Linked DNA regions of Homo sapiens: regions 2, 3 and 4 are each linked to region 1. The links come from fine-mapping of genetic effects on gene expression. A gene starts in region 1. Each other region holds a variant in brackets. All regions are shown on one strand. Distances are from middle to middle.

Region 1 (8,104 bases):
TTAATAAAAGCATTAAAGATCAAATTCTTAGCCAGGCACAGTGGCTCATGCCTGTTATCCCAGCACTTTGGGAGGCTGAGGCAGGTGGATCACTTGAGGTCAGGAGTTTGAGACCAGCCTGGCCAATATGGCGAAACCCCGTCTCTACTAAAAATACAAAAATTAGCTGGGCATGGTGGCACACGCCTGTAATTCCAGCTACTTGGGAGGCTGAAGCAGGAATCGCTTGAACCCAGGAGGCAGAGGTTGCAGTAAGCCGAGATCGTGCCACTGCACTCCAGCCTGAGTGACAGAGTGAGACTCCATCTTAAAATACAACAACAGGCCAGGCCTGGTGGCTCATGCCTGTAATCCCAGCACTTGGGGAGGCCAAGGCAGGCGGATCACGAGATCAAGAGATTGAGACCATGCTGGCCAACATGGTGAAACCCTATCTCCACTAAAAATACAAAAATTAGCAGGGCATGGTGGCACATACCTGTAGTCTCAGCTACTTGGGAGGCTGAGGCAGGAGAATTGCTTGAACCTGGGAGGTGCAGGTTGTAATGAGCCGAGATCGTGCCATTGCACTCCAGCCTGGGTGACAGACACTCCATCTCAAAAAAAAAAAAAAAAAAAAATCCAAAGAAGAATGGTATTTCATGACATGTGAAAGTAATGCAAAATTCAAATTTCAGTATCCATAAAGTTTTGTTGGAACACAGCTATGCCTATTTATATTATTTATGCTGCATGCAAACTACAGAGTTGATTTGTTGCTACAGAGATAGTAAGGCCCACAAAGCCTTCAGTATTTACTGTCTGACTCTTTACAGAGACTGGTCAGGGAGGGCTTCCCTGAGGAGGGGACATTTAAGCTGAGACATGAATAACAAGAAGACTGGAGATAGCGGGCAGAGCTGTCTAGGCAGAGACAATGGAGAGCAAAGGCAGTTTTCTCTCTAATCTTGTAACAGTCTTCTAAAGAGAAGCGTTATTAAAGAAAAAAAGAAAAAAAAATTGAGGGGGCCCTGAGGCTCTGAGGGTGCTGTAGCCTCTCAGGGTCACGGAGACTGTAGGTCCTGAGGAGGGGTTGGGAACCAGCACTGTCTGGCACCAGAATTTGTGGTGCCTTATGCTGCCTCCTTCTCGGCCTGACACAGCATTGGAGCCCAGAAACTGCATGTTGAATGGCTTTATTCACCTTCCTCGGGGAAGGACCAGGGATTTTAGATTCATTCTCAGGAATAGGTGAGAAGAGCCAAAGACTCACCCATGGGCATGAGAGAATGTTCTCTGCAGCCTCATGGTTAGTGGTAGGCCCAGAGGAGGCCAAGGGCAGTAGGCAAGACAACGGATAGAGAAGAGTAGTGAATTCCAGCTATGTGGAGTTTCCAGCTTGGCGAATTCCAGCCATGTGGGGTTTATTGGTGCTGGTAGAAAATGGTAGCCTCAAGCCCTCAGTTGACAAGTGTGGCCAGAGAGAACCCCACTCTCAATCCTTTGTAGACCAGGTCATTCCCGCCAGGCTCTGTGCTAACGGAGGAGAGTAGGTTATTAGTCCCATTTAAGAGCCAGAGAAATTAAGGCAGTGGAGAGTAGCAGGGCTACTGGTTTAAAAACACTGGCTCTGTGCCTGAATCCCAGCCTTGTCATTTGCTAGCTGTGGGACCGCAGGCAAGTGCCTTGATTTCTCTATGTCTGTGGATAATGATGGTATCTACCTCAAAGCTATGTAAAGAATTAAGGAAACAATAGCCCAACACCACACCTGCAGGAAGGAAGCAAGTTTATTATTACTCAATAAACATTGGTGGATCCTGATGACATTCTCTCAGTCAGCTTTAGCAGTCTTAAGAGACTGCAGAGGATGGAGAACCCAAGGTTAGAGCCAGATTTCTTCTCTACCCAGTTCCTCGGGGCCAAAACCCTGACACCATGCTTAACTCCTCTTTTATACGCCATAGTCCGTCAGCAAACCTTGTCTTCAGTATGCGTCCAGGAGTCCAACCATTCCTGCCACCTCCACCGTATTACTTTCATCCAGACTGCCATCAGCTGTCACCTAGATTATTGCAAAAGCCTCCTTGCTGGCTTTGGGGCTTCCATCCTCTCTCTCTCGCCAATCCCCAGTCAACTCCCAACAGGCAGCAAAGCTTAGGTTACTTCTCAGTTCAAAACCCTTCTAGGTGTGCTAGAATTAACTGATTTATTTACTCAATGATTATTTATTATTGAGTGTCTACTATGTGCCAGGTACTGTTGTAGGCATTGCAGATAAAATGGAGAACAAAACAGACAAAAATTTCTGCATTCATGAAGCTTCCGTTCTCATGGAGGGAGATGGTTAACAAACAAGTGTATGAGTAAAACATATGGTAGGTTAGGTGTCATGTGGAAAAATAGTTTAGGGAAGGCGGGGGGCCTTGGATTTTAAGTAGGGTGGTCAAGGAGGTCTAACACACAAGATAAGGGTTAAATAAAAGGCCAAACGTAGGAGAGGTGGGAGCCAAAGAGCTACCCAGAAGAAGAGCATTCTAGATAAAGGCTCAGTAAGTGCAACGGTGGAAGTATTCCTGGTGAGTCTGGGACAATAGTGGAAAGTCAAAGTGTGTGGGAGGGGAGATATAGAGCCCCATGCCCCCCTCCCACACACTTCAGAGGGGAAAAGGGGGCAGGATTGAGTCCTGTACATTCCCCACGTTTTTTTTTTCTCTGGAGATTGGAAGCCATTGGAGGGTCTAAGCAGAGGAGTGATGAGTTAAGCTGCTGTGTGGAAGTCCGTAAGGAACAGGGGTGAGTCAGAGACCCTGAATGGAGCCGTTGCAATTATCCAGATGAGATAGAGTGCCTTGGATCAGGAAGGGAGGTAGCAACAGAAGCGGCCAATAAAGTTCAAAGTCCTCAGCCCCAGTCCTCCCGATGGGGGTCTCACCTACCCCTCTCACCTCACCTTGTTCCTCCCTGCATCCCCACCCCACCGGTCACTGCTAGGCACATAGAAGCATCTACTAAGCATGTGGTGAATCAATGAACCCCTTAATGAATGGTCCACCCCTAGATCATCAGCATCCTTTTTAACGCTAGGCATATAGTCTGAACTCAACACATGTTTACAGATGGAATGCTGCACAGTCCTGCCAAGTCCAGGCGGTTATTCCTCTCCACAGCCGAAGGAAACTAAGGCTCGGGTGGGGAAGTGTCCCCCTGGGGTCTCTCCGCTTAGGCTGCAGGCTGGGCATCCTTTTTCAAACTCTTTTAGCACAGCGAAGTCGAGGGCACTGGGTGGAGGGTGCTTGCTTGCCCTCAGGGTGAGTCACAGTGACCTCAGAGGAGTTTCCCCAAAACGTCCCCGCCCTGTGATGGGGAAAAGCCGGAATCTCTCGGTCCCAGGTGGTCATGTGGCCCAGGCCGGACAAGCGTCCCGAAAGCCCCGGGAGAGACTAAGAAGCAATCCTCCCACGCGCTTTCTCCCACCCTCGGGCCACTGAGACGGAGGGACAGAGGGCCGCCCTCGCGCGGCCGAGGCCCCGCCTCCCGCTCGCCCGCCCGCGCCTCCAGCGGAAGCCGGAAGCAAAAGCGGGTCCTGCTAGCCCCGCGGCTCCGAACTCGGTGGTCCTGGAAGCTCCGCAGGATGGGGGAGAAGATGGCGGAAGAGGAGTGAGTGGGCTTTTTCCCGGGCGGCGGAGGCGGCGGGGCTGGGCCCCGGCGGGTGACAGCGAGCGCCTCAGGCCGCCCTCCGGCCCCGGAAGGCGGAGCTTCTTTTGCTGGTTGGCCAGGACTGACCAAGCCGGTGCCTACGAGGAGGGCGGGATGGGCGGGCCTGGGCCCAGGTGGGCCTTGCTTTCCCCTGGAGATCGGTCCCTCGAGCTGGGAATCTACTGCCCAGCGCAGGCCCGGAGAGCTGTCTTGCGGAAAATACAAACCATATTTACTTTCCCAGTTTTCGGTAATCTCATGGTTACTGAGCCCTCTTCCGCCTCCTCCAGGAAGTCGTCCGGGTTCTCCACACCCACCTCCTACGTAGCCAGTCGCCTCCTGTATAACGATCAGTTTTCATGTCTTTCTCCTTCACTAAGTTTCATTTAGTCATTAACTGTTAGCCATCTACTCAATTCCAGGCCCTGGGCAGGTGGTAGGAAAGGAGGCCGACCAGGAGCCGCTCTCTGGGAGCTTCCATTCTAGTGGGAAAAGAAGACCATAATTAGTCAAGGTGGTTTCAGATCGTGATTAATTAACGTTATTTGTGCCTAGTGTTCCATTATTGGAACGCTAAGCATGTGGGAGTTATTTATATCCTACTGCTCAAGGTCATCGCCAAGGTCTGATTTTTCTCACGTCTGCAGTTCTAAAAATTGCAACCTCTGGCATGAATGGGTTAAGTGTTCTGAAGGAAGCAAAATAGAGTTAAGGTTGGGGAGTCCACTCAGGAAAAAGTGACATTCAGCAGAAACTTGAATGACCAGAATGAGGGATAGGAGAAATAACATCAGGTTCAAAAGGCCTGGCTCAAGAAAGAGTTTAGTGCTTTTGAGTGACAGGCAGCATGGCTGGTGTGTAGAGAGGAAGGGGGTTAGCTGGACAAGGGGAGATGGGGAAGGACGGGCTGTGTCCTCCAGGTACTTTTGGGCAAGTCCAAAAGTCATCTCCATACCTGCAGGGCAGAGTCTGTTGCAGATTGTAGATGCCCTATCACTGTTTGTGGAATGAGTATGTGAAGATGAATAAGGAACCCCTTCATTGATACTGGAGTCCTTCACCTGATAACTTTTCAAATATATTTCTTGGCCATGTGGGGGTCATTTCATGTAATCAGTTATTTATTGAGCAGCTGCTCCATCCCAGACACTAAACAGCCTCAGCAGCACAAAATAAAAGAGGCAATATAGCCCAGCGATTTCAAGTTTGGGTTTTCAGCTTGATTCTGCCACTAACTGAGATGTTGGTGAAGTTTTGCAACCTCCCTGAGCCTTAGTTATGCATGAGTAAAAAACGGAAAGTAATCATACCCAATCAGACATGTTATACCTATTAAATGAGAGGTAGTGTGTTACCTAGTTCCTGGAATAAAGCAGTGCTCAGAAAATAATAACTTTTGTAGTCACAGTAACAGTTATTATAGCAATATTGTACTAGTTCACAATCCCAGCACAGTGTGAAAGAGCTGTGGGAACATACGCAGTGGAGTGGGTAAATTCGGGTGTGGTAAGATGGGGTAATAGGAGGTGACATTTGAGCCGTTTGAAATCTGAGAGGGATTTTGTAAAGTAGGGTAGGGCATGCCCAGATCAACAACTGGGCAAATTGAGGTGGCTTCTTCAACTTGCAGAAATAATGCCAGGAAAATAATGTAAATTGGAGAAACAAAGGTGCTAAGTAAACAGTGTTGGACCTTGGAAAGTGATGAGACTCCAGTTTGCCTCCCTTTAAATCCCCCAGTATTTGCCAAAGAGCAGGCAGCATTTCATTTCTATACTAGCTCTGATTCCCTACCGTTCTTGTCCTCTAAGTGGCTGTATTCAAAAGCACCAGAGGCCACTGGTACCCTTGTGCTGTGCAGGCAGGGATTTTCTTAGTAAGTTTCTCTCGAAGGCCTGCCTGTTAAAGACTTCTGAATCCCATAAAGTTCTTGGACAGCTTCTCTTTCTGGTGTGAGGTGTGTGAATTGATGTTTTGGGACCCTTTTCCATTATCTAATTATGCTTTCTATGTCCTCCAGGAGGTTCCCCAATACAACTCATGAGGGTTTCAATGTCACCCTCCACACCACCCTGGTTGTCACGACGAAACTGGTGCTCCCGACCCCTGGCAAGCCCATCCTCCCCGTGCAGACAGGGGAGCAGGCCCAGCAAGAGGAGCAGTCCAGCGGCATGACCATTTTCTTCAGCCTCCTTGTCCTAGGTGAATATGGACACTGTCATCCCCATCATCTGCCATCCCGTGTCTGTGTGCTCGGTCTGTGTGTTTAACCCTGTCACTCCTCTTGACTGTCAAGTCTTCCTCCCATTTGGTTTTCATATCAAACACTGAGGGAACATGATCAGTTTATAACATCATTAACAGGAAACTCTCTTCTTTATAAAATCATGGTGCTTAGCAAGTTCTGAAGAGCTGTTGATGTAATATCTTGGCCTTTGAAAGAAGGATTAAAAAAATTTTGGCCTAGAAAGAATCTTGAGGCCTGGCGCGGTGGCTCAAGCCTGACATCTCAGCACTTTGGGAGACTTGGGTGGATCACTTGAGGTTAGGAGTTCAAGACCAGCCTGGCCAACATGGTGAAACTCTGTCTTCACTAAAAATACAAAAATTAGCTAGGCGTAGTGGTGTATGCCTGTAATCACAGCTACTCAGGAGGCTGAGGCACGAGAATCACTTGAACCTGAGAGGCAGAGGTTGCAGTGAGCCGAGATCACGCCGCTGCACTCCAGCCTGGATGACAGAGTAAGACTGTCTGGAAAAAAAAAAAAGAATCTTGAACATCTAGTTTAATGGATTTCAAGTTCTACTCAAAGGAGTATGCACCTGTGCAGGGGATGAAGGAGCAGGGGGTGGGGTGGCAGGAGGTGGGAGGAGTCAGATGGGAGAATATCTGACCCCCTGCTCCTGGCTTCAATCAGAGCAGCATTTTGTGTTCATATTTATTTGACTTCCATGTGAATTTTATTTAATGGTTTTGCTGCTGATTGAAAGAGCAGAAACCCTTGCCCCAGCACCCTGTTTTCCTTAACCTCTGTCATTCTCATTAACCATGGTCATGACTTTTGCCATATCTATGTACCACCTGTATTGTTAATTTAGTTATGTACTATTTTTGATTAAATGCATTCACTCTCTGAAAACCTCATTTTGGGCCGAGTTTGGTGGCTCATGCTGGTAATACCAACACTTTGGGAGGCCAAGGCAGATGGATCACTTGAGGTCAGGAGTTCCAGACCAGCCTGGCCAACATGGTGAAACCCTGTCTCTACTGAAATTACAAAAATTAGCTGGGCGTGGTGGTATGTGCCTGTAATCCCCGCTACTCAGGAGGCTGAGGCAGGAGAATTGCTTGAACCTGGGAGGCGGAGGCTGCGGTGAGCCAAGATCGTGCCACTGTACTGTAGCCTGGGCGACAGAGTGAGACACTGTCTTAAAAAAAAAAAACAAAAAAAACCAAAAAACTAATTTTGTTCAACCTTCTCTTTTAGTGTGTGAGGAAATTTCAGCATAGAGAAGTCAGGTGGTTGTCATACCAGGCTGATATAAGACTAGAGACTGATAACCAGGTTACCAGATACCAGTCGAGAGGTTTAGATAAAAGACAAAAACTTAAATGCCTCCCAGTGTGCCTCCATCTCAAAAAACAAACAAACAAACAGACAAAAAAGAAATCCAGTTGAAACTACACAACCACTTTTGATTAGCTAAGGAATAAATAGCTTTGAGTTTGACCCAAGTTCAAATTCTTTTTTTTTTCTTGAGATGGAGTCTTGCTCTGTCGCCCAGGCTGGAGTGCAGTGGCATTATCTCGGCTCACTGCAAGCTCTGCCTCCCGGGTTCACGCCGTTCTCCTGCCTCAGCCTCCCAAGTAGCTGGGACTACAGGTGCCTGCCACCATGCCCAGCTAATTTTTTGTATTTTTAGTAGAGTTGGCATTTCATTCTGTTGGCCAGGATGGTCTCAATCTCCTGACCTCGTGATCCACCTGCCTCGGCCTCCCAAAGTGCTGGGATTACAGGCGTGAGCCACCACGCCCAGCCAAGTCCAAATTCTTGTTTGGCCGGGCGCCGTGGCTCACACCTATAATCCCAGCACTTTCGCGTGGATCATCTAAGGTCAGGAGTTCGAGACCAGCCTGGCCAACACGATGACTCCATCTCTACTAAAAATACAAAAAATTTTAGCCAGACGTGGTGGCGGGCACCTGTAATCTCAGCTACTCGGGAGGCTGAAGCAGGAGAATCACTTGAACCCGGGAGGCAGAGGTTGCAGTAAGCCGAGATCGCGCCACTGCACTCCAGCCTGAGTGACAAGAGGGAAACTCCATACCCCACCCCCCCAAAAAAACAAAAACAAATTCTTGTTTGAAAGTGAAACAAGCATTTCATTTGCTGCTTTTCTTTAATGATACCAAAGTCATACTCCT
Region 2 (8,104 bases), 25 kb before region 1:
ATTAAATAATATATGTATATATATTTATATATAATATATATATTAAATAATGAAATATATTAAATAATAAATAAATAAATAATTTATTTATTGTTTTGTAGAGATGGGAGTCTCACTATATTGCCCAGGCTCATCTCAAACTCCTGGCCTCAAGCATTCCTTCCACCTCAGCCTCCCAAACGGCTAGGATTACAGGTGTGAGCCACCACACCCAGCCCTCCCTCATACATTCAAATGGCCAACTCCCTTGGCTTCCTCAAGTCTTTGCTTAAATGCCATCTTCTCAGGAAGTCATTTTCTGAACACTCTATTAAAAATTGCAACCTGCCCCCAAACACGTCTTGCACTCACTGTCCGTGTCTCTGCTTAAATTTTCTCCGTAGCACTCATACCATCTAACATACTGTGCATTTACTTGTTTATTTTTATTTTTTTGAGACAGGGTCTCACTCTGTTGCCCAGGCTGGAGTGCAGTAGTGTGATCATGGTTCATTGTAACCTCTGTCTCCTGGACTCAAGCAATCCTCTCACCTTAGCCTCCCAAGTAGCTGGTACCACAAGTGCACATCATCACACCTGGCTAATTTTTGTATTTTTTGTACAGAAGGGGTTTCGCCATGCTGACCAGGCTCATCTCAAACTCCTGGGTTCCAGCGATCCACCCGCCTCAGCCTCCCAAAGTGCTGGGATTATAAGTGAACCATCATGCTGGGCAATTTATTTATTTATTTTCCGTTTCCCTCTACTAATGAATCAGCTCCAGGAGTGCAGGGACCTTGTCTGTTTTCTACACAGATGCGTTCCCAGCACCTAGCACAGTGCCTAGCAGGTATGTGAATGAATGAATGAATGAATCCATGCATGCATGAATGAAGTATCCTTGTACAAACCATGAACCATGTACATGTTAGGTGTCTACAACTTGTCGTTTGAATTAATGAATAAAAGAACAGGCAAGGCGCGGTGGCTCACACCTGCAATCCCAGCACTTTGGGAGGCCGAGGTGGGCGGATCATCTGAGGTTGGGAGTTCAAGACCAGCCTGACTAACATGGAGGAACCCTGTCTCTACTGAAAATAGAAAATTATCCAGGCGTGGTGGCGCATGCCTGTAATCCCAGCTTGGGAAGCTGAGACAGGAGAATCGCTTGAACTCGGGAGGCAGATGTTGCGGTGAGCCAAGATCGTGCCATTGCGCTCCAGCCTGGGCAACAAGAGTGAAACTCTGTCTCAAAAAAAAAAAAAAGAAAGAACAGACAGCACCAACCCTCCTTGTAAGTTCAATATGAGGTTGATCTGAAGCTGCCACCCAAGGCTACTGATCAAAATATCCTTCTAAACAAGTCTGTCCCACAGTCCTGGCGTCTGATAATATGGACAGTCAGGCTGGCTGGCACCAGACTGGACCCAGATGAAGGAATGGAATCAGGCCACATTACAGGGGCAAGAGGAGCCTTGTGGCCAGAGGTTCTAGAGGTCAGCAGCAAGTCATGCATCTGAAGAGGAAGTTGATTGCTGTACCTCAAGCTGAAACAGAAACTGCGGTGGCTAGCAAGGAAGGGTCCCCACCTGTGCGCCTCAGCCCCTTGGCCATTGCCAGCTTCCAACAGACCACAGAGACTTTTGGGGGAAAACTTTTTTATTGAAGTGTAACAGACATACAGAAAAGTGCACAAATAAGGAAAGTGCACAGGGGAGCGATGGCTCGATACATTTTCACAAAGGCAGACAGCGGGGTAACCAGCCCCCAGCTCAAGGAACAGAACATTCCCCGCCCCGGAGAAGCTCCCTTCAAGTCTTTCCCATCCTAAGCGATAACCGTTATCCTGATTCCAACAGCAGTGATGATTTTTGCCGTTTTTTGAACTTGATGAAATGGCAGCACATAACACGTATTCTTTTGTGTAAGACTTACTTACTACAAACTTTGTATGTTTGTAGCAACAGCCTTTTGACCCTGTCTCTTCCTCCATGCCCTCAAAGAGAAAAAGGAACCTAATAATAACACAAAATAAAGCGAAAGCATACTTGCTTGACTGGTTTAAATGTGCCATCTGGCCGGGCATTTTGGAGGCCGAGGCGGGTGGATCACTTGAAGTCAGGATTTCGAGACTAGCCTGGCCAACATGGTGAAACCCCATCTCTACTAAAAGTACAAAAATTAGCTGGGCATGGTGGTGGGCACTTGTAATCCCAGCTACTTGGGAGGCTGAGGAAGGAGAATCGCTTGAACCTGGGAGGCAGGGGTTGCAGTGAGCAGAGATCGTGCCACTGCACTCCAGCCTGGATGACAGAGGGTGACTCCATCTCTCAAAAAATAAAATAAAATAAAATAAAATAAAATAAAATATAAAATAAAATGTGCCATCCATTCTTTCATGCTTCAGCCACCCAGTGGGCTGGAACTGTTACTGCTTCCATTTCAAATATTGGGAGGCTGAGGCACAGAGAGGTTAAATAATTTGCTCAGCCAGGAAGTGAAGGTCTGTATTTAAAGCCAGGTCTCTCTGATCTCCAAGCTCATGTTCTAACCCAGCATACACTCCTTATCAATAAAATGACCATGTATTGAACACCCTCTTTGGACTGAATACTATACTTCAACTTTATGTCCATTGTCTTATTTGATTTTCCCAGCCGTTGATGAGTAATATACCATTATCCTTGCTTAGCAAATGATGAAAGCAGGGTTCAGAGAGGTTAAGGAACTTTCCTAACGTCATACAGCCCAGGAAGGCATGAAATAAAAATTTAAACTCTATTTTGTTGATTCCAAAGTCCAGTGCAGAACGATATCAGTACCCAGCATTTATGCGCATCTTTCAAATATACCTTCTGAGGCCCTGCAGGGTGGCTCATGACTGTAATCCCAGCACTGTGGGAGGCCGAGGTGGGTGGATCAGTTGAGGTCAGGAGTTCAAGACTAGCCTGGCCAATATGGTGAAACCCCGTTTCTATTAAAACTACAAAAATTAGCCGGGTGTGGTGGCACACGCCTGTAATCCCAGTTACTTGGGAGGCTGAAACAGGAGAATTGCTTAAACCCCGGAGGCAGAGGTTGCAGTGAGCCGAGATTGCACCACTG[T/C]ACTCCAGCCTGGGTGACAGAGCAAGATTCTGTCTCAACAGAAACAAACAAACAAAAACAAATATACCTTCTGAGTTTTTCAAAAAAGAGACAACAATAGCAGTTACCTTTTATGGATCATCTCAGAGTCAGTTGTTTTGGTCAAAGATTGCAAATGATCCCTTAATTTGTGTTCTTGTCTTCTCTCTCCTAGTAAGAGTATACCTGATTTTTAGCTTGGCACATGGCTTCCCATGGCTTTACTACCTATCTCAGCCTTCCTTGCAGCTAGGGGTAGCCACATGACTAACTTATAGCCAGTGAAGAACTGTTCCCCGACATGCCCACATGGCTCATGTCAACCCCAGCATTACATCATTTGTTTAAACTCTCAGTTTCTCTGTCTTGAAAATAGGGATTTAAATATTTATTTAAGCCAGGTGTGGCTGAGGTGAGAGGATCACTTGAGGCCAGGAGTTCGAGACCAGCCTGGGCCACACAATGAGACCCCTGCCTTTACAAAACAATTTTTTAAAAAAATTAGCTGGGCATGGTGGCGTGTGCCTGTAGCCCCAGCTACTCAGGAGGCTGAGGTGGGAGGATTACTTAAGCCTGAGAGGTTGAGGCTGCAGTGAGCCTTGATTGCGCCATTGTGCTGCAGCCTGGATGACAGAGCAAGACCCCATCTCAACATATGTGTATACATCTATCTATCTATCTATCTATCTATCTATCTATCTATCTATAGCTATATCTGTCTCATCTCTCTCTCTCTCTGTCTATATATATATATATATATATATATATAAATAAATATGTTCTTTTTTTTTTAATTTAACAAAAGCAGGAAGTAGACAGACACAGTGGGTGGTTCATGCCAGTAATCCCAGCACTTTGGGAGGCCAAGGCGGGAGGATTGATTGAAGCCAGGAGTTTGAGACCAGCCTGGGCAATATAGTGAGACCCCTAACTCTACAGAAAGTTTAAAAAAAAAAATCAGCTGGGTGTGGTGGTATATGCCTGTAGTCCCAGCTTCTTCACATCACTGCACTCCAGCCTGGGCAATAGAGCATAACCCTGTCTCTTAAAAACAAAAAACAGGAATATATGTAGTAGAGTCACCTTGAGTGTGGATTGGGAGAAGAAGCTAGGACAGGAAGGACACTAATGTGTTTGTGTTGGGTAAACAAACCCTGTTTATTGGGAGACCACCTGCTCCAGAAGAAAAGACACCAGGTGAAGACAGGAAGCTGGGTGCTGCTAACTGAATGAGCTGGGACAAGGCCCTTCCCTTACCTAGGGATAGATAATAAAAAATATTTTATTGTATATTTTTAAGGTAGTAGTTCCTTGTCTGCAGAGTGGGGATTTAGATTACATCTATCCTTTTGGTTTTGTCTACTCACTATGAATTCCCCTATCATAACAGCATCCTAATTTCTCTGGGAGCCCCCTTCTTTACTCCCTGTCCATGTGAAAGGCATGCAGCACTAACTTTATCCTTGGTTCCAGGAAGGCCAATGCTCCATGCTGGCCAATCAGCACCCCTCATTTCTCTGCCCATAGGGATTGGCTCAGAAATGGGCACCTGCCCCAAGTGGACCAGTGAGTTATCCCTCAGGTTTTTGCTGGGATTGTTTTGCTTCTGCTGCGCTAGGCTGGTATGAAGAGGGTCTGAAGCTCAAAGGTAGCCACCATTGTGAGAGTGAAAGACTGAGCCCTGATAACTTATGAACCCCTGAATCCAGCTGTACCTGAAGGCAGCCACATATTCCTGAACATGTTATTCTCCATGAGTCAATATGGTTCCTCTTTGTTGTTTTTTTGTTTTTTGTTTTTGAAATGGAGTCTCGCTGTCACCCAGGCTAGAGTGCAGTGGCACCATCTCAGCTCACTGCAACCTCCACCTCCCGGGTTCAAGCAATTCTCCTGCTTCAGCCTCCTGAGTAGCTGGGACTATGGGCACGTATCACCACGCCCAGCTAACTTTTTTGAATTTTTAGTAGAAACAGGATTTTGTCATGTTGGCCGGGCTGGTCTTGAACTCCTGACCTCAAGTGATCCACCTGTCTTGGTCTCCCAAAGTGCTGGGATTACAGGCATGAGCCACCGCGCCCATCCTCAATATGGTTCCTCTTTGGACTTAAGTCACTGTAGCAGATGACGTGGCTTCTGTGTCCATATCCCCTTGGCATTCATCCTTTTGACCCACAGTGAGTGGATGGCTTCAAATTTCCACGCCTATCTTTGCAGCCTGAGGGCTTTGCTCTCATATACGCTCTGCATACACAGTCTGAGAATGCTGGGGGCTTCACCCTCCCCTACAAGCAGCCCTTAACCAATGAGTGACAGGGGCTGGTGGATAAATGTCCCCACTCCCTTGCCCTTCACCTGGATAATTCTGAGGTGTATTGCACTCTGTGTCCCACAGTTCCCCAGCAGGGTTGAGCCCCAGCTGCCCAGAGTGATAACCTGCTCAGTAACTTACCTTCTATTGGTTTCTTTCCCTTCCCTGTCCTACTTCCCTCCCCGACCAGAGCTTCCTGGGATCATTTCTCAAGTAAACGATTTAATATCTGCACACAAATCCTTGTCTCAGATCTGCTTCTGCAGGAAACCAACCTAAACGTTTCGTAAGATTGGTTTTCTGTCACGCACAGCTAAAGCTGCTCTGGCAGACGCATGGTTCAAGAATTCTTTTAAAATATTTGCCTCATAACTGTATTTTTCCAGCCTGCTTTTCAGCTCAAAGGAAGTATATGCACTGAGTTGACTTATCAGTGTGCATAGCAGAAAGGGACCCAGTAAGAGAAAGCCCCCTGAGAGGCCCTGGGACAGCTGAGTGATCCACCCTGGCTGCCTCCTCTCCACCTCATTCTCACACACTAACCTTTCCCAACCCTTTTCATTCCAAGGCTCCTAGCCAGCGCCCCCCACCTGCCTTAGGAGATAACCCCAGTTCCTTCCTCGGATTCTTTCATCTGCAAGGCCTCAGTGTTCTTGTCCGGCCAGTGATAAGGACATTCAACGTCATTTTCCTGTCCCTGACCTTTGAAAGAACCCTACCCATCTGGGGCCTGTGATGTAGACTCAGACTGAGATGTTCCATCTTGGGGATATAATCAGTGGGAAAGAGAGAGATTCCTGAGAGGTCATCATTCATTCATTCATTCATTCAAGAAATATTTATGGAGTGCTTGGGCAAGGAATTCTAAATTGCAGAGTCAACTAGAGCCAGCTTAAGCAGAAAAGGAATTTTTTTTTTTTTTTTCTAAGATGGAGTCTTGTTGCCCAGGCTGGACTGCAGTGGCACAATCTCGGCTCACTGCAACCTCCGTCTCCAGGGCTCAAGTGATTCTCCTGCCTCAGCCTCCCAAGTAGCTGGGATTACAGGTATGCACCACCACGCCTGGCTAATTTTTTGTATTTTTAGTAGAGATGGGGTTTCACCATGTTAGCCAGGCTGGTCTCAAACTCCTGGCCTCAAGTGATCCACCTGCCTCGGCCTTCCAAAGTGCTGGAATTACAGGCATAAGCCACCGTGCCTGGCCCACAAAGGGATTTATGAAAGGTAGGAAGTACTCTAGATGTTAAATAGCCACAAACGGTGCAGCCAGGAGCATCGATGCCAGGAGCAACACTCACCTTCACTGTTGAACTGTTCTAATCAAAATATCACTGCTGCTGCTGCCCCCCTCTCCCCAAACTCAGGACCTAGGTAGCTAGAGACAGGCTGCTAGAATTGCCCCATGCTTCCCCAGAAGGACCAGATACCGCTCCCACTGTGCTTGCCAGAAGACTCCACCACTTGGCATCCTTCTGCTTGCTTCTGTCTCCAAGGCTTACTAGGGGAACCCAGATCACATAAGGCACTCTTGCTGCAAAGAAATCTCAGAATGTAGTTTTTCTCTGTCTGGCCTTTACAGTACAGGAGGTCACACTACAGGGGAATGGGATAGGTGAGTGAGCCAATCTGTAGTATCTGCCGTAGGCTCACAACAATGATAAAGTCAGGGCTGGGCACAGTGGCTCATGCCTGTAATCTTAGCACTTTGGGAGACCAATGTGGGAGGCTCCCTTGAGGCCAGGAGTTTGAGACCAGCCTAGGTAACAGTGGGAGACCACTCCATCTCTACCAAAAAAAAAAAAATTAAGTGGTGGTGTGTGCCTGTAGTCCCAGGCTGAGGAGGGAGGAATGCTTAAGCCCAGGAGTTCGAGGCTACAGTGAGCTACGATCGCACCACTGTACTCCCGCCTGAGCGACAGAGCAAGACCCTGCTCTAAAAAAGAAAAATTAAAATAAAAAAATTTTAATGATAAAATCAGAAGAGTCCCCTGCTTTCCAGGAGCTCACCATTGACAGGAGGATATCAACACCAAGCAATTCCAGGAGGGAGAGCATTCCAAAAGGGAAATTATAGACAGTTACACACACATAGACCAAGAAAACTCAACCTATTCTAACAGGACCTCCTGAAACAGGTGCCGTTGTACATGATGTGTGAAGGTGTTTAGAGGCTAACCAGGCAAAAGAAGGGCAAGAGGGAATAGCACTTCAGGCAAGGGAAAATCTCATATGCAAAGGTCCAGTGGCAGGGAAGGTGAGGGGTGCAGGAGGAAGTGAGAGAAGCCCACTTCTCTCTGACTGGAGAACAGAGAACAAGGGGAACAGAGGGAAGGAAGAGGGGCGGTAAGGGAATAGACCATGACCTTGTGGTCCATGATGTGGAATTCAAACTGTCTCCTAAGGCCAGTGGTGACCACTGAATGCTTATGAGTAAGGCAGTGACATAATAGCAACTGCTAATATTTATTTATTTATTATTTTGAGATGGAGTTTCACTCTTGCTACCCAGGCTGGAGTGCAATGGTGTGATCTTGGCTCACTACAACCTCTGCCTCCCAGTTCAAGCGATTCTCCTGCCTCAGCCTCCCAAGTAGCTAGGATTACAGGAGCCTGCCACCACGCCCAGCTAATTTTTTGTATTTTTAGTAGAGATGGGGTTTCGCCATGTTGGCCAATCTGGCCTTGAACTCCTGA
Region 3 (8,104 bases), 60 kb before region 1:
CGAGTAGCTGGGACTACAGGTGCCCGCCACCACACCCAGCTAATTTTTTTGTGTGTGTTTTTAGTAGAGATGGGGTTTCACCATGTTAGCTAGGATGGTCTCAATCTCCTGACCTCGTGATCCACCTGCCTCGGCCTCCCAAAGTGCTGGGATTACAGGCGTGAGCCACTGCGCCCGGCCCTAGTTTTGCATGCTCAGGGCTGTGAAACACATCCTCAGCTATTCTTGTCTGCTTGTTTCTTAAACACCTAGACCTGGAATTTGCAGGGGGAAAAGCATAAACCTGGGGCCTCCAATGCATGTTACTTAGGCAGGTGGTTGTGCATTGGATTGCTCTTGTTCCTGGGCAGGACAGATAGTGGCTAAAAGCCAGGCTTTGAAGTCCTGTAGAGCAGAGTTCAAATCCCAGCTCAGTATTTACTGGCTGGGTAATCTTTGGCAGGTCACTTCACCAGTTTGAGCCTCCATTTCCTCATTTGTAAAATCCTGCCTTCATTGGTCCTCATCTCACTTCTGACTCTAAACCACCATATCCCAAGATGGGGCTGATTAGAATGACTTCCTCATGGAAGTTACAATTATTGAAATTGTAATCGCTTGATGAATGGAAGTTCCCACTTCTTTTATCCCAGGCAGTTTCTCAAAAGCAAAAGGAAAAGGAACTAAGGCCAAAATCTGGGAACCTACAAAATCACTGGGAATGAAACAGAAGTGTGGGCATTAGAATGGAGGCTCAATATCCCAGTCCAAGATCTATGGATCTGGTGGAAAATAACCCACTAAAACTGGCTCCAACTATAATAAAAGGGGGAGGCTGGGCTCGGTGGTTCAGCCTGTGATCCTAGCACTTTGGGAGGCCAAGGCGTGCAGGTTGCTTGAGCCCAGGAGTTTGAGACCAGTCTGGGCAACATGGCGAAACCCTGTCTCTACAAAAATACAAAAAATTAGCTGGGTGTGGTGGTGAGTGCCTGTAGTCCTAGCTACTGGGAGGCTGAGGTGGGAGGATCACCTGAGCCCAGGGAGTTTGAGGCTTCAGTGAGCCATGATTGTGCCACTGTTCTCTGTTCTCCAGCCTGGGTAACAGAATGAGACCCTGTCTCAAAAAAAAAAAAAAAAAAAAAAAAAAAGAGGAAAAAAGAAAGAAAAAAAAGGGGAAATTCACCATAAGAAGTATCAGTCAGGAGTGTTTCTGCTGTTGCAGAAACCCAACTAAATTTGGTTGAAGCATGAGGAGAATCAACTTTTATTTTTGGTCACTTAATTGAAAACATCAGGACAAGTGCCAGCTTCCAGCACAGCTGGACCCAAGGGCCAACATGTGGCTCCAGGGACTCTCCCTCCGTTTCCAGTGCTGCACTCCAGCTTTTGCTGTGTCCCCACTCCTGGGTCAAGATGGCCTCTCAGCAACCGCAGAGCCAGGCAATTCTGTCTTTTCACGGATGAGAACAGAAAGTCCCAGAAGGAAGTCTCACTGGGTCTAGCCTGGTCACATGCCCATTTCTAAACCAATCGCTGTGACTGGGCCAGCCTAGAGCTAGGCAGAGCTGGCCCCCACGGACAGAAAGGAGGAGACCCGTAGCTCCCGGGAGAATGCAGGTGCTGTTTCCAGAAGGGGCATCAAGGCCAGAAAGGCAAAGACAACAGGTGTCTATTATGCCACCTGGCTGTACTTTTTGTGAGAACCGCTGTTATCACATGAAACACAAGGGCAGGAAGTGCAGTGGCCTCACACATTTCTTAAATGAGCACCTGAAAGGCCACCAGGAATTGTGGCAGCCAAATCCTGGTCTCTCTATGACTCTGCCCACAGGTTTCCTCATCTCTGCTTCTCTCTTTTCCCTCTCCCTGTCTTCTTCCCTGAGCCCATGAGCAAACCCGACTGCCCCATAGCACCTGACAGCACAACCCCTTCCTTTAAGCAACAGCCCACAAGACTCACCACATTCTCAAGACAGAGAATCTGATCACCTCAACCAGTCAGGTGCCCGTCTTTGTGCAGTCAATTCTGGCTGGAGGGCAGGGTTGAGTAGCTTGTACGCGTGGTTTCATGGGGTAGTTGCACCTGTTTCAAAGAGAGATGGGTCACCACAAACTGGGCAGAAACCACACGATATGTCCATGATGCTCTGCAGCTGAATGAAGTTATCTACAAAGAAACTGAAGCCAAGGCCAGGCAGAAGTCAGGCCTGAAGCTAAGAATTTGTTTCCCCAAGACAGGAACATTCCTGCATCTGGAGGCTGAGGCTGCTTGGACAGAGAAGTGCATCCAGCTGCCAAGGTGAAGCTCTGAAGGGGCCTGTCCATGAGAGCAGGGCCAAGAACGCCTAAGCCCACCAGTAAGATGCAAGAACACCTGTGCGAAATAATAATAATGATCATAGCTGGGTGTGGTGCCTGACAGCTGTAATCCCAGCACTCAGGGAGACAGAGGCAGGAGGATCACTTGAGCCCAGGAGTTTGAGACCAGCCTGGGCAACCTGGCAACCCCTTCCCCACACCCCTTGTCTCCACAAAAACGACAAAAAATTTTTAAAATGATAATAATATAAAATAGCACTAATAATAAATGTTATTCAGTGCTGCTGACCAGGTATCACTCTAGACACTTAAATGAACAGCATTTTTGCTTTTTTGTTTCTTTGTTTTTGAGACAGAGCCTCACTCTGTCCCCCAGGCTGGAGTGCAGTGGCACCATCTTGGCTTATTGCAAACTCTGTCTCCTGGGTTCAAGTGATTTTCATGTCTCAGCCTCCGGAGCAGCTGGGATTACAAGCGTGTGCCACCACGCCCAGCTAATTTTTTGTATTTTTAGTGGAGACGGGGGTTTCACCATGTTGGTCAGGCTGGTCTCAAACTTCTGGCCTCAAAGTGATCCACCCGTCTCAGCCTCCCGAAGTGCTGGGATTACAGGCGTTAGCCACTGTGCCTGACCTAAATGCGCAGCATTTTTAAGCCTAATGATACAGTCAGATGGGTATTTATTATCCTCATTTACAGAACATATATTGAATGAGTGAGCATTAACTGATCTTTCACCTTATTAATTCACTTAGTCATTCACTCACTCAATGGATAAACAATTAATGAATGCCAACTATATGCCAAATACCATGTGTGCTGGGTGTTGGGACACAAGCAGTCCTGTCTTTGTGAATGTTACAGTAAAATGTTGGAGGCTCTGAAGGGTGAGTGGTCATTAATTAGACGGTTAGACTAATAAGAGGGGAAGGGAAAGGCATTCCAGGTAGAAGGAACTCCATGTGCTAAGGCACTGTGGGGGAAGGGCATGTGTGGGGTGGGAGCAATGCCTGTTGACTGATGGTGTGCCAGAGAGGCAGAGAGCCACGCAGTTTACACCTGCTGGCTCACTGACCCTTACCACAGTCCTGTGAGATAGCTACTGCTATTAATATCATTTTGTAGATGAGGAAATCGAGGCACAGAGAAGGTAAGTAACTTTCCCAAGGACACACAGCACCATTAGCAGTGAAAGAGCAGCAGTTATAACCCAGGCCTGTGACCAGAATTCTGAACATCTCTAATCTTTAAGTAAAGGAAGGCAGGAGAAATTGGTCCATTTGGGGCAGGTGTGTTTTCTGGGAACCTTCCAGCACTATTTTCACTTGCAGCTGTAGCCACAGGCTACATAGATGATTTCCAGAATGGAGGGGAAGAAGAGTGCACCCAGCCTTTCCTGGCCACAGGCAGGAATCCTTTTAGCCAGTTATTAATGCTCAGCCACAGGAGATGCCGCAGTGAGACACACAGAGGAGCCAGACCAGGGAGAGGCAGCAAGAAAGACAGCATTGATCCTGGAGGTATACATTTAGGAGAGAGAACCTGTCAGAACAGAAAGAGCTTGGACTTGGGACCAGGCCAACCTCAGCCCAAATGGCAGCCCTGCTACCCACCAGCTCTGTGACCTTAAGTAAGTTTCCTCTTAGTCTCCAGTTCTTTATTCAAGCAGAGTAAAAGTATGCTTCCC[G/A]CCTCCCTCCCACCTCCATCCTGTAGCCAACAGTCCCCCCTCCCCAGAGGCAGGCACTATGACTAGTTTCATGCATCATCTTCCGGGTAAATTGTAGAGAGATAGATGGATGAATAGAAGTATATATGTGTGTGTATAATATAGTACACACATATATGCAAATATTGTAACTATTGGGATGCTTTGACTAAGTACAAAAAAACCTACAGATGCAAGATTTACTTATTAAGAACTGTGGAGATAATAAATGCCTAATTTCTGTGTCCAACTGCTCATTAATGTCTAGTAAGAATCTCAAATTTAACATGGTTAAGATTAAACTTTTATTGTTATTATTATTATTTTGAGACAGAGCCTCACTCCGCTGCCCTGGAGTGCAGTGGTGCAATCTTGGCTTACTGCAGCATCAACTTCCCAGGCTCAAGCAATCCTCCCACCTCAGCCTCCTGGGACTGCAGGTGCACACCACCACGCCTGTCTAATAAAATTAAACTTTATGATTCCTCACCCTCCAAACCTGTTTCTCCCTTACTAAATACCTGGTTACTCAAGCCAAAAATACACTGAAATAATTCTGGATTTTTCTCTCTTTCACTCACTTTTTTTGGGGGGTGCTGGGGTGCAGTGGCGCCACCTCAGCTCACTGAAACCTCCACCTCCTGGGTTCAAGGAGATTCTTGCGCACCAGCCACTGGAGTAGCTGATTACAAGTGTGTGCCACCATGCCCAGGTTTTTTTTTTTTGGTTTTTTTTTTTTTTGGTATTTTTAGTAGAGACAGGGTTTCGCCATGTTGGCCAGGCTGGTCTCGAACTCCTCACCTGAAGTCATCCACTTGCCTTGGCCTACCAAAGTGCTAGGATTACAGGCATGAGCCACCACGCCTGGCCTTTCACTCACTTTTTACATCTGATTCATCACATAGTCCTGTCCAGCTTTTCTGAAAATCTAGAGATAGATCCACCATTAAGTGAATGAAGCAAAGCTGAGATCAGGGCTCTTCAATTGCACAGCCCCTTCCAAATCTAGCAATATGTTCACACAGTCATGTGTTTCTGCAACATCTGCAAAGGTAAGTATTTTAGCTGCAACTGGTTAGACAAGGTCTCTCCAGCTCCCCAACGTTGCCTGCCTGGGAATGTGCATCGGGTGGCATTTGGGGAGCTATGGGCAGGGATCAGCTAAGGGGAAGATGAGTTAGGGAATCCATTAAATTTGGGTTTAGTGGATGTAATCTTTTTTTTGTTTTTTAATAGAGGTGGGGGTCTCACTGTGTTGCCCAGGCTAGACTTGGGCTCCTGGGCTCGAGTGATCCTCCCACCTCAGGCTCCTGAGTAGCTGGGACTACAGGTGTGCACCACTGCACGCAGCTTTAGCGGGATGTAGTCTTGTAGCTCACGATCTTTTCGGTGAATAAGGAAAGTATTGCTTGTTGTCCTGGCAGAGAAATGGCTTCCAGGATACTCCTTCTGCCCATGCTACTGACTCACCCAGTATCAAGACACAAAAGTCTGGCACGGTGGCTCATACCTGTAATTTCAGCACTTTGGGAGGCCAAGGCAGGAAGATTGATTGAGCCTAGGAGTTCCAGACTAGTCTGGGCAACATAGTGAAACCCTATCTCTTCAAAAAAAAAAAAATTGTTTTAGCTAGCCTGGAGTGGTGGTGGTGTGTTCCTGTAGTCCCAGCTATTAGGGAGGCTGAGGTGGGAGGATCACTTGAGCCCAGGAGGTCAAGACTACAGTGAGCCATGATTGCACCACTGCACTCCATCCTGGGCAACAGAGAAGCCCTGTCTCAAATTAAAAAATAAAAATAAAAAAACAGGCACAAAAGTGACTGGGCACAGTGGCTCACGCCTGTAATCCCAGCACTTTGGGAGGCCGAGGCGGGCAGATCACGAGGTCAGGAGATCGAGACCATCCTGGCTAACATGGTGAAACCCTGTCTCTACTAAAAATACAAAAAAATTATCTGGGCGTGGTGGCGGGTGCCTGTAGTCCCAGCTACTCGGGAGGCTGAGGCAGGAGAATGACGTGAACCCGGGAGGCGGAGCTTGCAGTGAGCCGAGATCGTGCCACTGCACTCCAGCCTGGGCAGCACAGCAAGACTCCATCTCAAAAAAAAAAAAAAAAAAAAGACACAAAGTTATAGTACTAAGGATGCCAGAGCAGGAAGAGAGAAGGAATCTGAATCCTTAGTGATAGCATTGCTTCCCTAAATGAACCAACTGTGAAACTGTTCTACATCCAGACTCCTCATAGGTAAATTATACATTTGCGGGTTGGGTATTGTTTTATATTTGCAGCCAAAAGCATCCCAACAGATACAACAATATATGCTTCCATGCCTCTAAAGTTAACCTGGAAGGAGATATACAAGACTGGTAATGCTGAATGCCTCTGTGGAGGGGGACAGGTAGCAGAGGGGAATGGGAGGGAGACCTATTTAATTCAGATTTTTTTGTGTGTGCTTGAATTTTGTTTCTCTGGGGCCAACTTTCACCATTTCAAAAAGTAGATAGTAAAACTTCAAAGTATGTGGAACACTTGGGAACTTTTTTTTTTCTTTGGGACAGAATCTTGCTCTGTTGCCCAGGCTGGAGTACAGTGGCACAGTCTCGGCTCACTGCAATCTTCTTGTCCCAGGTTCAAGTGATTCTTGTGCCTCAGCCTTCCAAATAGCTGAGATTACAGGCATGCACCACCACGACTGATTAATTTTTCGTAATTTTAGTAGAGATGTGATTTCGCCATGTTGCCAGGCTTGTCTCAACCTCTTAAGCTCTGGTGATCCATCCGCCTCAGCCTTCCAAAGTGCTGGGATTACAGGTGTGAGCCACGGTGCCCAGCCAGGTTTTTCATTTCTTTTAAGCGCATGAAAGAAGTACATTTAATCTGGCAAGGCTGGCTCTTGCTGAAGTGGTCTCGGAGAGGCCATTGGAACAACAAAGAAAGAAATGTCATTGGCAAGTTCAGATACTAAAGGGTTGGAAAGTGATCTGGCACTCAGCATCCTGCAGCTTGAGGGACATTTGGAGTTCTTCCTGCCTGCTTCCCACTGCTGAGCAATTCCCAGCCCAGCCTGATATTTCAAATGATTTCCAGGAAGGGGAACCTGGCACCAGCTGTACCCCCTTGAAGTTCTTGTGACTGTCTTCTTCAAATGCATCCGCCTGCTTCTTCTTCAAAAGACAAGAGAAAATGCTGCTGGCGAGCTAAGAGACTTCAAAGATGGTTTTGTCATGTGTTTTTTGAGTCAAGAGGCTAAGTTTCTGAGAGGAGGAGAGATTTTTTTCAAGGACACATACAGTTAATTGGTGACAGGACTCCAGTGTCCACTTAGCTAGGCTCCTTCTTGCTCCTGTTCTGCCCAGGGTCCTTAGTTCTTCCAGGCTGTTCCACCCAGTAGGCCTCCCAGGTTCTCAAAGTGATAGCACAGGGAGATCTCCTGGGGAAAAAAATGACCTTGACATCCATGGTCTGTGAGTCTGGGGAAGGCTGCATTCTATAGCAGCCTCCTGGAGATTTACAGAGCATGTTGGCAGATTAAGGGTTCTGCAGAGTCCTGCATAAAGAAAACTACTTAAAAAAAAATTCCTGGCCAGGCACGGTGGCTCACGCCTGTAATCCCAGCACGTTGGGAGGCTGAGGCGGGTGGATCACTTGAGATCAGGAGTTCAAGACCAGACTGGCCAACATGGTGAAACCCCATCTCTACTAAAAATACAAAAAATTAGCCGGGCGTGGTGATGCGTGCCTGTAATCCCAGTGACTCGGGAGGCTGAGGCAGGAGAATCACTTGAACCCAGGAGGCAGAAGTGGCAGTGAGCCGAGATCACACAACTGCACTCCAGCCTGGTCTTGCTGTGTCACAAAAACAGAGTCTTGCTCTGTCCCAAAAACAAAAACAAAAACAAATTCCTCCCAGGTCAGGATATCAATAGTACTCACCTCGTAGTGTTGTCATGAAGATTAGTATCACGAGGCTACAACCATTTATCGGATATCAGAGTTTCAAAATTTACACTAAATGGGTTCAATAAGATTATGTATAACCTCAGGACAGGTCAGGATTTCCTTCCAAATGAGTGCTGGCATCAGACTTTTGAGAAACAGTTC
Region 4 (8,104 bases), 240 kb before region 1:
TAAATCCCAAACTAGTCTCAAATAAAAAGTATATTTTTTTAAATATGGAAGGTTCTACCCAGACTCAGCAACAGGAGAGGCCCAGAGAGGGAGAGAGGACTAGACTTCAGGGGCTGGGGGAGGGTTAAGGGGCTTCGGTCTTACCTATAACAGGATAAATATTTGTGTTAAGTCGAATGTATTCAGCTATTCCTTATGCAATTCAAGTTAACTTAAAAAATATTTTATGAAAAGGAGAGCTACAGCTATCTCCTTGATTTGAGGCTGTCTTTACTTTTTCTCCTAAATCACAGATGCTCAATGGAGCTGGAAAACCTTTGGGACCAGGAGGCTGTGACATCTGACCCTGGCTCCGTTCTGTCCAGGCTGTGGGACCTCAGGGGAAGGTAGAGACTTCATAGGCCTCAGTTTCTCCCTGGCAAATGAAATTACTAAGCCCACCGACCCCCGTCTTCCAGACGGGGAATCCCGGGGTGGGTGGTTCCAGGGCATGATCAAGACATCCCCCAGGGGCTCTACACTCCGCTGGCTCAACACTCCCATCTGTGTAATGGGTTGAGGAGCGAGGCTATCCCTATAGGACTGCCGAAAGCAAGGCAGGGTTTGACAGCGCGTAGGTGGGTGCCAGGTGCAGGCAGAGGCTGGAGAGTGGAGAGCGCTTCTTCCACCCGGGCCACGCAGAGGCTGTCCCCGCACGGCTCCCCACCCACAAACCCTCGGTCCTCACCTGAAACCCCCTCCTAGGTCCCTGCCGTCGCGCTAAGGGCCAGACTCGGACTTGTCGCGGTGGGCGATTCGCCCCGGGGGACCTACCGGACCCCGCACCTTCCCACCTTGCACCTTCTTGGCAGGGGGAGCACGGCCTGGCCCCCTCACCCACGTGCGGGGCCCCGGGACTCCCACCTCCGAGGGTCTCGCCTTGCCCGGGATACTGGAGCGGGACTCGGGCCGGGCCGGCCGCGGGCTCCGAGACCCTTGGGCTGCAGCCCGGGCGGGAGCCGCCCCCTTTGTCTGGCGGGGCCGAGCGGAGCAGGACACTCACCGCGTGCGGCGGCGGCTCAGTAGCAGCAGCAGCAACAGTGCGGCCAGGAGGCCGAGGAGCGCGGCCCAAGCCATCGCGGGGCTGGCGGGGCTGGCGGGGCTGGCGGGGCTGGCGGCCTGGCCCACTCCCAGGTAAAGTTCCCCGCCCCCACCCGGCGCGCCCCTCCCACTCCGCCCACCCCAGCCCGCTTTGGGGCGGGGTGGGGGGGGTGGGGGATGGGGCCCTCCGAGGTCCGCAGGGGTCGGACCGGGGCGCTCTGTTAGAAACCCTGCTCCCCCCAGCTCAGGCCTGATGGAAAATGTGGGAGGGAGGGGAGGGGAGAAGGAGGGGGAGGGGGAGGGGGCGGAAGGGATGTGGTGGGCTGGGGAGTGATCAAGGGGAAAGGAGATAGATGGGGGACTGAGGGGGATGTGGTGGACTGGGGGGTGATGGAAGGGAGGGGAGAGGGAGAGGATTTACAGGAAGGAAGAGATTATATGCGGGGAGGGAAGAGGGATGGGGAAGATGGGAGAGGACTTTTGGGGAAGGGAAGAGGAGGGAATGTGGGAAGACGGCGGGACGATGGGGAAACAGCCAAGGAGGTATGGGGAGGAGGGGGCACAGTGGGAGGAGAAAATGTGGTGGGAGGGGACGAACATGGAGGAGGAGTGTAAGGGGGTCAGGAGGAGCTTTCCCACCACATTCCACATTCCACCTAGACAGAGGAAACCCCCCAAGGCTCCTCCTCACCCCATCCCCCACCCCAGGCGTGCTGGGGACCTGGAGTTTTCCATTCTGTGGTCTGGGCTGGGAGGGCTGGTCTGGATTATATCGCACCCTATAGTATCTTCAGTAACTACTGGGCAGGGGGTACAAGGGTGTCTCAGGGAGTCCCCTCATCCTCACCTGCTTTGGGGACAGATAGTGCCCGTGAAGTATGCACCCTCTACCTGGTGCACGTTAGGGCCTCCGGATGTGGTGGCCATTGTCATCGCTACCTGGTGCTTGGGGTGCCAGCCCCCTGTGCCCGCGGCTCTGCAATGTACCACCCCAGGGTGCTGATGAGAACTGGGGGTCAATCCAGCCTCACTCCACGCCCCTGCCCCCACCATCCCCATTCCCACCCTGGGAAGCGTTGGGCAGGTAGCTCAACCTCTCTGAGCTCACCTCATTATCTGGAAACAGGGAGGGCAGAGTTGTGCTTACCTCTGGGGCTGTTGTGAGGAAGTGATGAGAGCTTGACACTAAAAGGAATCACAAACTGTTGAGTGCTTGGCACACTAAGTTTTATGAAACCATGGGCTGAACCTGGAGGTAAGACCCAGGAGGTCTTGTTCTAGTCCTGTATCCACCCATTCAGTGCCGGGTGAGCTTAGGCACGTTTCATTCCATAGTCCCAGCAGAGCTCTGGAGAAGCTGTTGCTCCTCCTGGTCTCCTGGCTTCCATCCTTATCAGCCAGGGTCCTGACAAGGCCCTTCGAGAACCAGCATGATCCGCCCCTTCTCACCTTTACCTGCCTGACCCTATGCCCCCGACTCTCTCCCTCACCCACTCTGCTCCAGCCACACTGATCTCCCCATCTTTCCCTAGAGGTCCCACTGCAGGGCCTTTGCACGTGCTGTTCCCTCTGTTCGGAGCATTCTTCGCACAGCCTGCTCTTTCCACCACCTCCCCGGTGCCTCTATCTCTGCTCAGCTGTCACTGCAGAGAAGCTGTCTTTGGCCACCTGGTCTAAAACAGTCATCTCCTCTTACTGATTTTTGTTTCTTTGTTTTTTTGATAGTTTTTTTTTCTGGCAGTACTTCACATGTCCTGCTATCATACTCAAGATTCATTCATTTGCCTGCTTAATGTTGGCTGTCGAGGCAGCTGGATGACCCCCTTGTGGCCTCAGCAGATTCAGAACAGCAGGAGGCAAAAGGAGTTTTCTGATCCTCTTGTTTATTTTTCCAGCTTATCTGCCAGAGAAGCCAACAATCCCAAGAAGGCCATAGAACGGGTCCAGAGGATTTTCTCCAAATTTGGGGAGCTCCAAAGGGCTGTCTGCTAGCAGTGGGGTTCACAGCTGGGCTTGGCCGATCCTCAGCTTTGTGACCCCAAGCAGACTGCTCCACCTCCCTAAGCTGAGGTTCCTCATTGACAGAATGGGGAAAAGAGAACCTCATGGAGTTGAGGTCAGGAACAAACGACCTGGTCCATGGGGCACACCTATGTGAGTGCCTGTCACACCATGAGCATCAGGGAAAGTTAACCGCAATTAGCGCTTATACCAGTTCCGCTCCTCTCCATTATCTGTGATCAGGCTTGGTCTCAATTTTCCCATCTGAAAAATGGGAAGAACAGTTCCTTCCTCATGGGGCTGCTTTGAGAACTGAATTAAATGAAAAGAGAATGAAATCACCCAGCACAGGGTCTGGTATACAATAGGTACTCAATAAATATTAGTTCTTCTACTCCCCACCCCTGGCTTCAGTGCAGACCAATATCACCTCAATACAAATATCTCTTCCAGATACTCTCTTCCCTTCTCGACCCATAGACAAAATCCTCCCAGGGAAGGAGAGGCAGCTGCTCACACACCAAAGGGAGATGAATGTGAGCCTCTGGTTCTTCCTGGATTTGTTCAGGAGTCGGCATATGTTTAGGAAGGTGGCCAGGCCCCCTTCCCAGAGAATGACCCACCATGGGTCTGAGCTGGTCCAGGAAATCCACCTTTGCTAGTGATTTGTCCTGAGGTGGGCA[C/T]CTTCCAGATATCTGTTGCGGGCTTCTAGAAAAATGTGTTTCCTTCCTATTTGCCTTCTCTTCTGCTTTGGGGGCAATCGTGTGGGAATGTGATTAGTGGGGGAGCTGAGGGGGGCTGTAGTGTTATGAGGGAAGGCCAAGAAAACTGCAGAGCCCCAAACCAGAGCTGCGGAATCACCATCCCTGGAACCACCTGCCTATAGATTTCTCATTTAATGAGCTAACCACACGTCTGTGCTAGGACACCATGAGTCAGATTTTTCTAATACTTGCAGCCAAAGACATTCCCAACTGAGACGCCTTCTAGATATGGCTGAAGGGAGGACCAAATGAGGCAATGATGCATCCGGAGCACCTCTGCAGGACTGGCCCATGCGAGAATTCAAAAGTGTTGCTTTGTTTTATTATTTTTACTTTGCTTACTGTGTAAGCTTTCTATGTTTATCAGGCTGACAGGACATCCAACCCTCTGGCTATGGCATCTTGGAGGAACAGGCAGGCCTTGAAAATAGCAGAAATTCCGAATTCCCCTGCCCCGGGAGGACTCAAAGGACCCTGCTGAGGACAGAGCTGATATGGCCTCAGAATAAAGATGAGGGAAGACCATCCCAAGGAAGACCCCTCTAGCCCATGGCAAAAGGGCTGGAATACGCAAGGATTTGAAAAGCAAGTTTTGCTTTCCATATAAACCTAAGCAAGTCGCTTAATCTGTGAGCCTCAACTACTTTACTTGTGCAATGGGCATGTTGCTGGTAGTGGTGATAGCAGGGAGCCACCGAGAGAGCTTCCAAGTGTGCCATCTAAGCCCTCCTCTGGGGAAGGGAAGCTCCTCTGGGGAAGGGAAACTGGACCCCCGGGAAAATTTATTCTCCCAGGGACGAACATCCAGACATTTCCCTGTAGGAGCCTCAGTGTGTTCAGATGTTCACTGTCCAGTAGAAACAAGACATCTAGGCAACTCTCCCATCTCACCAAGCCTCTGCTCTCTTCTGTGGCCACTGTGGGGTTGTGAGAGTAATGTCAAGACCCAACCCAATTAGAACACAGGGAATTTTGCCTGGGAAAGGGAGCCCTTCTACCCTACACCCCTGCTTTCTCTCTTCCAAGGATCAGGTCTGATTCATGTCTGCATCCTAAAGGCTACAAATAAACTGTGTCCGGAAAGGAAAATATTATGTGTATTGCCTTCTTCAAGGCTAAAAACCAGTCTCAACAGAGAGGGGCAGTTTTAAATATTTTTTTGTAACAATAGTTCTAACTTTAGTTAGTAACTGAAGCCATCTGAAACACTTTTTCATAATAATTTATTTATTCCCCACAAAGAACCTATAAAATGGGTAGTAAAATTATTCCGAATTCACAGATGGTGAAATCAAGGTCCAGAAAGAGTCACTTCACCCAAGGTCACGTAGTACTTCCTTTGATAAGCTAGAGCATGGGAATTTGATGGCTTCTTAGGACAAGCTAACTTACTCCCTGGTGCTGCAAACACACCCTGGGCCTTCCCACCTCCACACCTTTGCTCATGCTGTTTACCTGCCTGGAAGCCCTCTCTTTCTCTACCTTTTGATTTTTCCAAATCGGTTAGGAGCAGGTTCTCCAGGAGAGCCAAGATGAGATGAGATATACTAAAGGCTTATTGAGGGAGTGCCAGGGAGTAAAATGAAGAGGGAGCCAGAGAGGGCTGGGAGAAAGGGACAGAAAGGAGGACAAATGGAAGGAAGGGACAGAGGAAAGAAGGGACCGTGGGCTGCAGTGCATTCTTAGAAAGGTCAAGTCTGGCCGGGCACAGTGGCTCATGTCTGTAATCCCAGCACTTTGGGAGGCTGAGGTGGGTGGATCAGTTGAGGTCAGAAGTTCAAGACCAGCCTGGGCAACAAGGTGAAAACCCCGTCTCTATTAAAAATACAAAAAATTAGCCAGGAGTGGTGGCTGGCACCTATAATCCCAGCTACTTGGGAGGCTGAGGCAGGAGAATTGCTTGAACCTAGGAGGCAGAGATTAGAGTGAGCCGAGACCGCACCACTGCACTCCAGCCTGGGTGACAGAGCGACTCTGTCAAAAAGAAAAAAGAAAGAAAGAAAAAGAAAGTAAGTAAGTTAGTTCAAGGCTAACAGGTTGTCCTTGAGCCTCCTGAGGAGCCCTATGTCTCCCAAGAACAAGTCTGCTTCCCCCAGTGATTGGCTAGGAGCAAACCCTGGGAAGCATGGCATATCTGTCAATCAGGCTCCACCAAGGGAGGTCCCAGAGGTGTGTTTTCATGGCTGCTGCAGCTACGAAAGGAAGCACAGCTGCCGTCTAAAACTGGAACAATGCAAGAATAAATTCTTCCACTTACAGAAGCTAAACGAGGTTGAGAGGTGGAGGGGAAGGAGAGACCCAAACCGCAACGTTTCTGGTGTTTTTGTGCTGCTAAAGAGAGAGTGGTAAACTCAAGTCTTCGAGCAAGTATTGCAAATGAATGAAGTGAGCCAGTCATATCAGGAAGGCAACAGGGAGGGATGGGAACAATGGAAAACTAGAGAGGGCTGCCCCATCCAAAAGGAAGCAGCTTCTGGCAGTACCAGCCAACTAAAGCCACGTAGAAATACATGCCTAGTGTGGCCAGATCTTTAGACTCAAGAGAAGCCAGAAATAATGGCTCCAATTATTTTAAAACGCTGCATAGACCAACAGCACACACCTGCCCCCAGATTTTTAGCCCTGCAGTCTAGTTGTGCCAAGGGCCAGTGGTTTAAACATTTGGGGTATGTAAAATAGGTTTGGAGTTGGGATGTTGAACAAAATTGCTCTGTAGAATTAAGGAAGGACAACAGAGTTTTAGGGGGCAGCCTGAAAGAGGGGGCAAAGACCAGGCCGACATGAGCACAGATTGGGGGCCTGTCCCAGTGTGACATCCTCTGTGGAATTAGGAGCCAATAAATGACCATTTCTATTGGTGATGTGTCATACTGAGTGTTTAGTTGTTTGCTGTCTTGGGCTGTGGAATAACACCACACATACACTCATATACATACACACGCACACACACACATGCACTACTCTCACATACACACTCACATGTTGCCCCAGTTACCCCCAAACGTTCAGAAACAATCTGCTACACACGTCAAGTGACCAACGCATCCTGGTTTGCCCAGACTTTCCCAGTTTTAGCACTGAGAGCCCTGCATCCTGGGAAACCTCTCGGTCCTGGGTAAACCAGGAAGGTTGGTCACGCTATCACCACACCTCAGCGTAGCGTGTGAGTGGCCAGAGATTGGGTCAGAGCTGTGGCAGCCACCTTGGAGCCTGAGGAGAATCTTTGCTAAGTCACACAATTAATTAGCCACCCCTGGAACTGTGCTGCAGTAGATTAGATCATAGTCTCCAATTTTTACCCACTCCCTGTATCAGAATTAGACATTCACGCCCTTGGCTGCAGGGTTGCGGTGCCTCCCACTATGAGCAGAGAATAGTATCTCCCTGACTCAGTGATGGTGGACTCGGGCCTGTGACTCAATTTGATCAGTGGAGGATGAAGAAATGACCAGTTGCCAGTTCTGAGCAGAGGTTTCACGAGGAATCACATATTTCCACTTGACCTTGGTTTCTGCCTTGAGCCATGACCCACAGGGCAAACCTGAGCTCAACCTGCAGCCTGAAGTAGAGAACCCCTAGCTGACCTGCAGAGGTCCGAAGAAGAAAAATGTACGTGTTGTTACAAGTCATGGAGATTTTGAGATCTTCTTAAGCAACAAGAATTGACTAATGTATACTTTATCTCTGAACTTTTTAGAATCCTTTTGGTTGAATGTTCTTTGTACCAGTTAAATTAGAATAGGCTGCTTTCTACTCTTGGAGCCTTGGTACATCTGTACAAGAGGATGATGACGACAAGGCCCCCCTCCCATGGTGGTTGGACGAATTCAAGAAGATCTTGTGTCTAGTGCATGCAGTAGGCACTTAATAAAAGAGATGATGCTAGGCCGGCTGCAGTGGCTCACGCCTGTAATCCCAACACTTTGGGAGGCTGAGGCAGGAGGATCATGAGGTCAGGAGTTCGAGACCAGCCTGGTTAACATGGTGAAACCCCGTCTCTACTAAAAAATACAAAAATTAGCTGGGTGTAGTAGGGGACACCTGTAATCCCAGCTACTCAGGAGGCTGAGGCCGGAAAATCATGTGAAACCAGAAGGGCGGGGGTTGATCGCGCCACTGCACTTCAGCCTGGGCAAAAGAGTGAAACTCTGTCTCAAAAAAAAAAAAAAAAGAAAAGAAAGAGAGATGAAGCAAGGCTGGGCTCAGTGGCTCACGCCTGTAATCCCAGCACTTTGGGAGGCTGAGATGGGTGGATCACT

Which allele goes with the higher level. Positions count from the first base shown, and alleles are read on the strand shown. Sizes are in standard deviations (SD) of each study's normalised expression. Not every link is listed here.
For the expression in whole blood of the gene that starts at base 3,519 in region 1, allele C in region 2 goes with a lower level than allele T (small effect, 0.10 SD a copy in GTEx).

What was found. PIP is the estimated chance that this variant, and not a neighbour inherited with it, causes the effect.
Region 2: its variant is fine-mapped to the expression of SLC9A8 in whole blood (GTEx, PIP above 0.99).
Region 3: its variant is fine-mapped to the expression of SLC9A8 in whole blood (TOPMed, PIP above 0.99).
Region 4: its variant is fine-mapped to the expression of SLC9A8 in gastroesophageal junction (GTEx, PIP 0.97).

What each region holds. Positions count from the first base shown.
Region 1 is chr20:49,809,310-49,817,413 of GRCh38, forward strand. SLC9A8 (solute carrier family 9 member A8) reads left to right here and starts at 3,519. Exons shown (of 16, transcript NM_015266.3): 1 at 3,519-3,639; 2 at 5,699-5,880. The coding sequence starts at 3,614. RefSeq lists an enhancer at 3,198-3,337 and a silencer at 3,488-3,767.
Region 2 is chr20:49,784,456-49,792,559 of GRCh38, forward strand. No RefSeq gene overlaps it. Among named protein-coding and RNA genes, the nearest start is that of SLC9A8, 24 kb to the right of the region's middle. RefSeq lists an enhancer at 1,228-1,467. The variant T/C (reference allele first, on the strand shown) is at 3,085.
Region 3 is chr20:49,749,293-49,757,396 of GRCh38, forward strand. No RefSeq gene overlaps it. Among named protein-coding and RNA genes, the nearest start is that of B4GALT5, 39 kb to the left of the region's middle. RefSeq lists an enhancer at 1,541-1,630. The variant G/A (reference allele first, on the strand shown) is at 3,986.
Region 4 is chr20:49,567,001-49,575,104 of GRCh38, forward strand. PTGIS (prostaglandin I2 synthase) reads right to left here and starts at 1,137. Exons shown (of 10, transcript NM_000961.4): 1 at 1,043-1,137. The coding sequence starts at 1,116. It overlaps LOC101927486 (a long non-coding RNA gene), which reads left to right and starts at 1,044. Exons shown (of 2, transcript XR_244188.4): 1 at 1,044-1,173; 2 at 4,213-4,934. RefSeq lists enhancers at 1,437-2,053, 2,054-2,668. The variant C/T (reference allele first, on the strand shown) is at 3,765.